Linked DNA regions of Homo sapiens: region 1 is linked to region 2. The links come from fine-mapping of genetic effects on gene expression. A gene starts in region 2. The other region holds a variant in brackets. All regions are shown on one strand. Distances are between the middles of the regions.

Region 1 (2,920 bases), 37 kb before region 2:
CTAAAGCCATCCTCCCACCTCAGCCTCCCAAGTATTAATAGCTGAGACTAGAGGCATGCACCACCGCACCCGGCTAATTTTTGTATTTTTTGTAAAGACACAGTTTCACCATGTTGCCCAGGGTGGTCTCGAACTTGTGAGCTCAAGTGATTTGCCTGCCTCAGCCTCCCAAAGTGTTGGGATTACAGGTGTGAGCCACTGCGCCCAGCCTGAGAATTTGTATTTCTGTCAGGTTCCCAGGCAGTGCTGATGTCGCTGGTCCCAGGACCAACACTTTGAGAACCACTGCACTGAGCCCTGCCATGTTCTGTCTCCCACCTTGACACTGAATACTGCCTGAAATAAGTGACTGATCAACTGAGGCTTGGGAGAGTCTTGATTTAAATGTCAGAAAAGAAGTTTCCCTTTTGATTCATGCCAGTGGGCAGCGAGGGCCATGAATTAAGATCCTCCCTTCATGGTGGAGAGATGCTGTTGGTCCTCCATATCTCAGAGGCACGATTAGCTGCACCGCGTGTTTTCTGTGGAACTCCCTGTCTCCCAGCAGCTGGGGCCCCAGCGAATAATCAGGGGGAGATGTGCTTTGCAGCTTATGGAGGTATTCAAGGCCAGCTCTCCCCATGGGTAGAATCAGTGGCTGTTGACATGATAGAGTTTGGGAGCCTCAGAAGAATGCCCGTTTTATTGCATTCCTGGTCAGTACCCTCTCAAAGGGGCCCCTAGGGTCTCTCTCCAGCTGCTCTTCTGAAATGAGGGTTCCCCTGGGAGGGGACAGGTAATACTTGCCTAACTCCTTATGATAGATCACATCAGCTGAGAGCCTTGCCCACAGAGGAGGAGCCAGGGGGCAGCCTAGGGGAATGATGAGCGGTTGCTGCAGACAAGGAGAGGGCTCAGAAAAGGGAGGAGTTATGCCAGATCCAAATGCCAGTTTCATCTGAGTTCCCTCTGCCTGCTGGTGAAGACTGCACTAGCCGGCCCTCCTTCTGGAGCCGACCTTCCCTGGCTTCCTGACATCCTGAAAGTTCGGCCTCCTTTCTAGGGCTCATCCCCGAGCCCTGTCTTCCAGGATTGTCCCTTTCACTGTCTTCTTAGCTTTTCTTTCTTTTGCCCCAGGCTTTTTGGGCAAGACGGTCTCTGCGCATCCTGTGACAAGCGGATTCGTGCCTATGAGATGACAATGCGGGTGAAAGACAAAGTGTATCACCTGGAATGTTTCAA[A/G]TGCGCCGCCTGTCAGAAGCATTTCTGTGTAGGTGACAGATACCTCCTCATCAACTCTGACATAGTGTGCGAACAGGACATCTACGAGTGGACTAAGATCAATGGGATGATATAGGCCCGAGTCCCCGGGCATCTTTGGGGAGGTGTTCACTGAAGACGCCGTCTCCATGGCATCTTCGTCTTCACTCTTAGGCACTTTGGGGGTTTGAGGGTGGGGTAAGGGATTTCTTAGGGGATGGTAGACCTTTATTGGGTATCAAGACATAGCATCCAAGTGGCATAATTCAGGGGCTGACACTTCAAGGTGACAGAAGGACCAGCCCTTGAGGGAGAACTTATGGCCACAGCCCATCCATAGTAACTGACATGATTAGCAGAAGAAAGGAACATTTAGGGGCAAGCAGGCGCTGTGCTATCATGATGGAATTTCATATCTACAGATAGAGAGTTGTTGTGTACAGACTTGTTGTGACTTTGACGCTTGCGAACTAGAGATGTGCAATTGATTTCTTTTCTTCCTGGCTTTTTAACTCCCCTGTTTCAATCACTGTCCTCCACACAAGGGAAGGACAGAAAGGAGAGTGGCCATTCTTTTTTTCTTGGCCCCCTTCCCAAGGCCTTAAGCTTTGGACCCAAGGAAAACTGCATGGAGACGCATTTCGGTTGAGAATGGAAACCACAACTTTTAACCAAACAATTATTTAAAGCAATGCTGATGAATCACTGTTTTTAGACACCTTCATTTTGAGGGGAGGAGTTCCACAGATTGTTTCTATACAAATATAAATCTTAAAAAGTTGTTCAACTATTTTATTATCCTAGATTATATCAAAGTATTTGTCGTGTGTAGAAAAAAAAACAGCTCTGCAGGCTTAATAAAAATGACAGACTGAAATACAGTGTTGTTTATTTGATTACGACTTATAATTTGGGATGGCGGGGAAATGCTCTGCTTTTTCTTTTCTAAAGGAGAAGCAAATAAGCAATTTACTCTTAGGTCAAATAAAAACTTCTGTGTATTGCAAGGGTTTGTATGAGGCAGGCACATTTCTATATTACTGGCAATTATGTAACAGGTCATCATGTAGCTCAGAGGAATGTAGAATAATTAAATTGTTATTGTACAATATGCATTTCACTTCAGCATTGTATGGAGTGAGTGGAAGGCAAGATCATTGCCTTTGGGAAACTTGTAACCTAGAAAGGACACAAATACATAAAGCAGATTCCCTTTGGGAGAGAAGGTAATTACCTAGTTTGAAATGTGGCAAAGATGCTGAGCTTGACACTTCGATTTTCCAAGACGGGTGTCTCAGGGTGTTTTATGACAAGTGGTTAAGAGGACCTTTACTTTGCGGATTTAAAGCAGGCACCTTGGTTTGTGTGTTTGCCTTCCCCGGAGTCAGGCCGCCCCCATGAACTGATGCAGAGCGCCACCTTCTGGCCATCACCTTAAAGCGCGCTAGCCCAGGAGGGTCCCGACGTAGGACAAACCTAGATGAAGAAGAATATGCTTTTCAATGATTTCCTTAGAGTACTCGGAAATGCAAGAAGTCTAAATGTGTTCAGTTATTAAGACACAAGAAACATGCAGCTAAGGCTGCATGTTAACTATAAGATTCCTTTAAATCTTCCTAAGGTTTGTGATCTTTGTTATTTTTAATTTTTTTAAATCCCTGGACAGAGAGACAAATGATTT
Region 2 (2,920 bases):
GATATCCATAGGCAGAAGGCTGAAACTAGACCCATTTCTCCTTCCATATACAAAAATCAAATCAAAATGGATTAAAGACTTAAATCTAAGACCTGAAACTATGAAACTACTATAAGAAAACATTGGGGAAAATCTCCAGGACATTGGTCTGGGCAAAAATTTCTGGAGCAATACTCCACAAGCACAGACAACCAAAGCAAAAATGGACAAATGGGATCACGTCAAGTTAAAAACCTTCTGCACAGCAAATGAAACAATCAACAAAGTGAAGAGATAACCCACAGAATGGGAGAAAATATTTGCAAACTACCCATCTGACAAGGGATTAATAACCAGAATATATAAGAAGCTCAAACAACTCTGGAGAAAAAAAAATCTAATAATCTGATCAAAAATGGGCAAAAGATGTGAATAGACATTTCTCGAAAAAAGACATACAAATGGCAAACAGGCATATGAAAACGTGCTCAACATCATTAATCATCAGAGAAATGCAAATCAAGACTACAATGAGATGTTATCTCACCCCAGTTAAAATGGCTTTTATACAAAAGACAGACAATAACAAATGCTGGTGAGGATGTGGAGAAAAGGGAACCCCCGTATACTGTTGGTGGGAATGTACATTAGTACAATCACTATGGAGAACAGTTTGAAGCTTCCTCAAAAAACTAAAAATAGAGCTACCATATGATTCATCAATCCCACTGCTAGGTATATACCCCAAAGAAAGGAAATCAGTATATTAAAGAGATATCTGCACTGTCATGTTTGTTGTTGCACTGTTCACAGTAGCCAAGATTTGGAAGCAACCTAAGTGTCCATCAACAGATGAACGGATAAAGAAAATGTGGTACATATACACAATTGAGTACTATTCAGCCATAAAAAAGAATGAGATCCAGTCATTTGCAACAACATGGATGGAACTGGAGATCATTATGTTAAATGAAATAAACAAGGCACAGAAAAACAAACATCACATGTTCTCACTTATTTGTGAGATCTAAAAATAAAAAAAAAATTGAATTCATGGAGATAGAAAGTAGAAGGATAATTACCAGAGGCTAGGAAGGATACTGAGGGTGTGAAGGGTAGGTAGGGATGGTTAATGGGTACATAAAATAGTTTAAAAGAATGAATAAGACCTAGTATTTGATAGCACAACAGGGTGACTAGAGTCAATAATAATTTAATTGTACATTTAAAAATAACTGAAAGAGCATAAATAGACTGTTTGGAACACAAAGGATAAGTGCTTGTGGGGATGGATACCCCATTCTCCATGATGTGATCGTAACTCACTGCATGCCTGTATCAAAACATCTCCTGACCTTGTAAATACATATATGGGGGGACACCTATAATGTACCCACAAAAATTAAAAAATAAAAATAAGGGGAAGGTAGGGTGGCCATCATGATGGTCAAGCAGTGACAGGCTGGGGCCAGGGTGACAGTTGGCAGTTGGAATGGGGGAACTGTGAGGAATCTGAGAAGGTTGGAAGTCAGCCCTGACCAGAGGGGATGGGATGTGAGAGACGGATGTCAGGTGGCATGAGGCAAGGGAAGAATTTCAGAGGCAGGAAGAAAGTACACATAATAGCTCCCTGAGCAGAAACAGAAATGGGAAGGGAATATGATCTGAGAGAGAGTTTCATCTGCCTTTACAATGCCGGAGGCAGAGATTGGCACACAAGGACAGGGTCTTGTCTTCTGGTAGCTTGTCTAATACAGGACACAGGCAAGCTCACAAGAAACTGCCTCGTAGGGCTGAGTGAAATTTGCTGATAGAGCTGCAGAATCACATTCCTCAAAGACAGGAAGGAGCTTAACGTAAGTTTGGGTTCTCTGGACCTGAGATGAAGGCAGGGCGTCAGGAGGAGGTGGCCAGCCAGTCTGGGGGGTTTAGGGCAAACTGAGAAGGGCGAAGTGAGTCGGGCACTGAGATTTATGAAATAAACGCACCAAGTTGTGTGAATAAATGATCAGGGAAAGAGAGAGTTGCTTGAGGAGGAAAGAGAAGCCAAAGACCCTGGATCACTCAGAGAACTGGAGACAGCATGGGGGCTTGAGCCAAACTGCCGGGATTTGTTCTGTCCCTTGTTGCTTGTGTGTTCCTGGGTCATTATCACCTTCCCTGTGCCTTAATACCTCCATCTGTTAAGTGGGTACTATTATAGTATCTATAGCAAAAGCTACATAAATTGATAAAGTAAAATGGCGGGATGTTGCTTGGTTCATAGGAAGGGTTCCATCAATGTTAGCCGGCCTCAGTGCGTTAAGAGGGACAAAAGAGAGGCTGTAAGCCACACTGAGCTAGTGCAGCGTCACTGAAGTTCTAGTACGGAGAGGGCTTTAAGAAGTAGAACGGGGTCAGGATGACCATGGGGAACACATAGTGTGCACATGAATGCATTATTTCATTAATTCTATGCAACTCTGTGCGAGGAACTACTATCTGCCCAAGTTTACGGATGAGGAAACCGAGGCTCATAAACAGAAAGTGACCAGCACCAGGTGGCTTAGCCAGACACATGCACAGCTGGAATTTGAATCTACGACTGTACAGTCCTACAACCCATGCACCCACACTGCCCTTTAGGAGCCACCCAGCAGCATGAGGGGAAGGAACAGGCTGGCCCTGGCAGTGTGGGGCTGTAGCCAGCTGTGCAGATCAAGTGGGCAAAGAAGAAACGATGTGGCAGATGTAGGTCACTCATCTTGAGACCTCTGGTCAAGAATGAGGGGCCGGGCATGGTGGCTCAAGCCTGTAATCCCAGCACTTTGGGAAGCTGAGGTGGGTGGATTACCTGAGGTCGGGAGTTCAAGACCAGCCTGACCAACATGGAGAAAAATCCATCTCTACTAAAAATACAAAATTAGCCAGGCGTGGTGGTGCATGACTGTAATCCCAGCTA

Which allele goes with the higher level. Positions count from the first base shown, and alleles are read on the strand shown. Sizes are in standard deviations (SD) of each study's normalised expression.
In carriers of allele A in region 1, the expression in lung of the gene that starts at base 1,455 in region 2 tends to be higher than with G alone (moderate effect, 0.42 SD a copy in GTEx).

What was found. PIP is the estimated chance that this variant, and not a neighbour inherited with it, causes the effect.
Region 1: its variant is fine-mapped to the expression of LINC02721 in lung (GTEx, PIP 0.96).

Annotation. Positions count from the first base shown.
Region 1 is chr11:33,857,772-33,860,691 of GRCh38, reverse strand. LMO2 (LIM domain only 2) reads left to right here. Exons shown (of 6, transcript NM_005574.4): 6 at 1,117-2,116. The coding sequence ends at 1,336. Among named protein-coding and RNA genes, the nearest start is that of LMO2, 33 kb to the left of the region's middle. RefSeq lists a silencer at 2,540-2,713. The variant A/G (reference allele first, on the strand shown) is at 1,222.
Region 2 is chr11:33,820,909-33,823,828 of GRCh38, reverse strand. It overlaps LINC02721 (long intergenic non-protein coding RNA 2721), which reads left to right and starts at 1,455. Exons shown (of 3, transcript NR_183773.1): 1 at 1,455-1,835.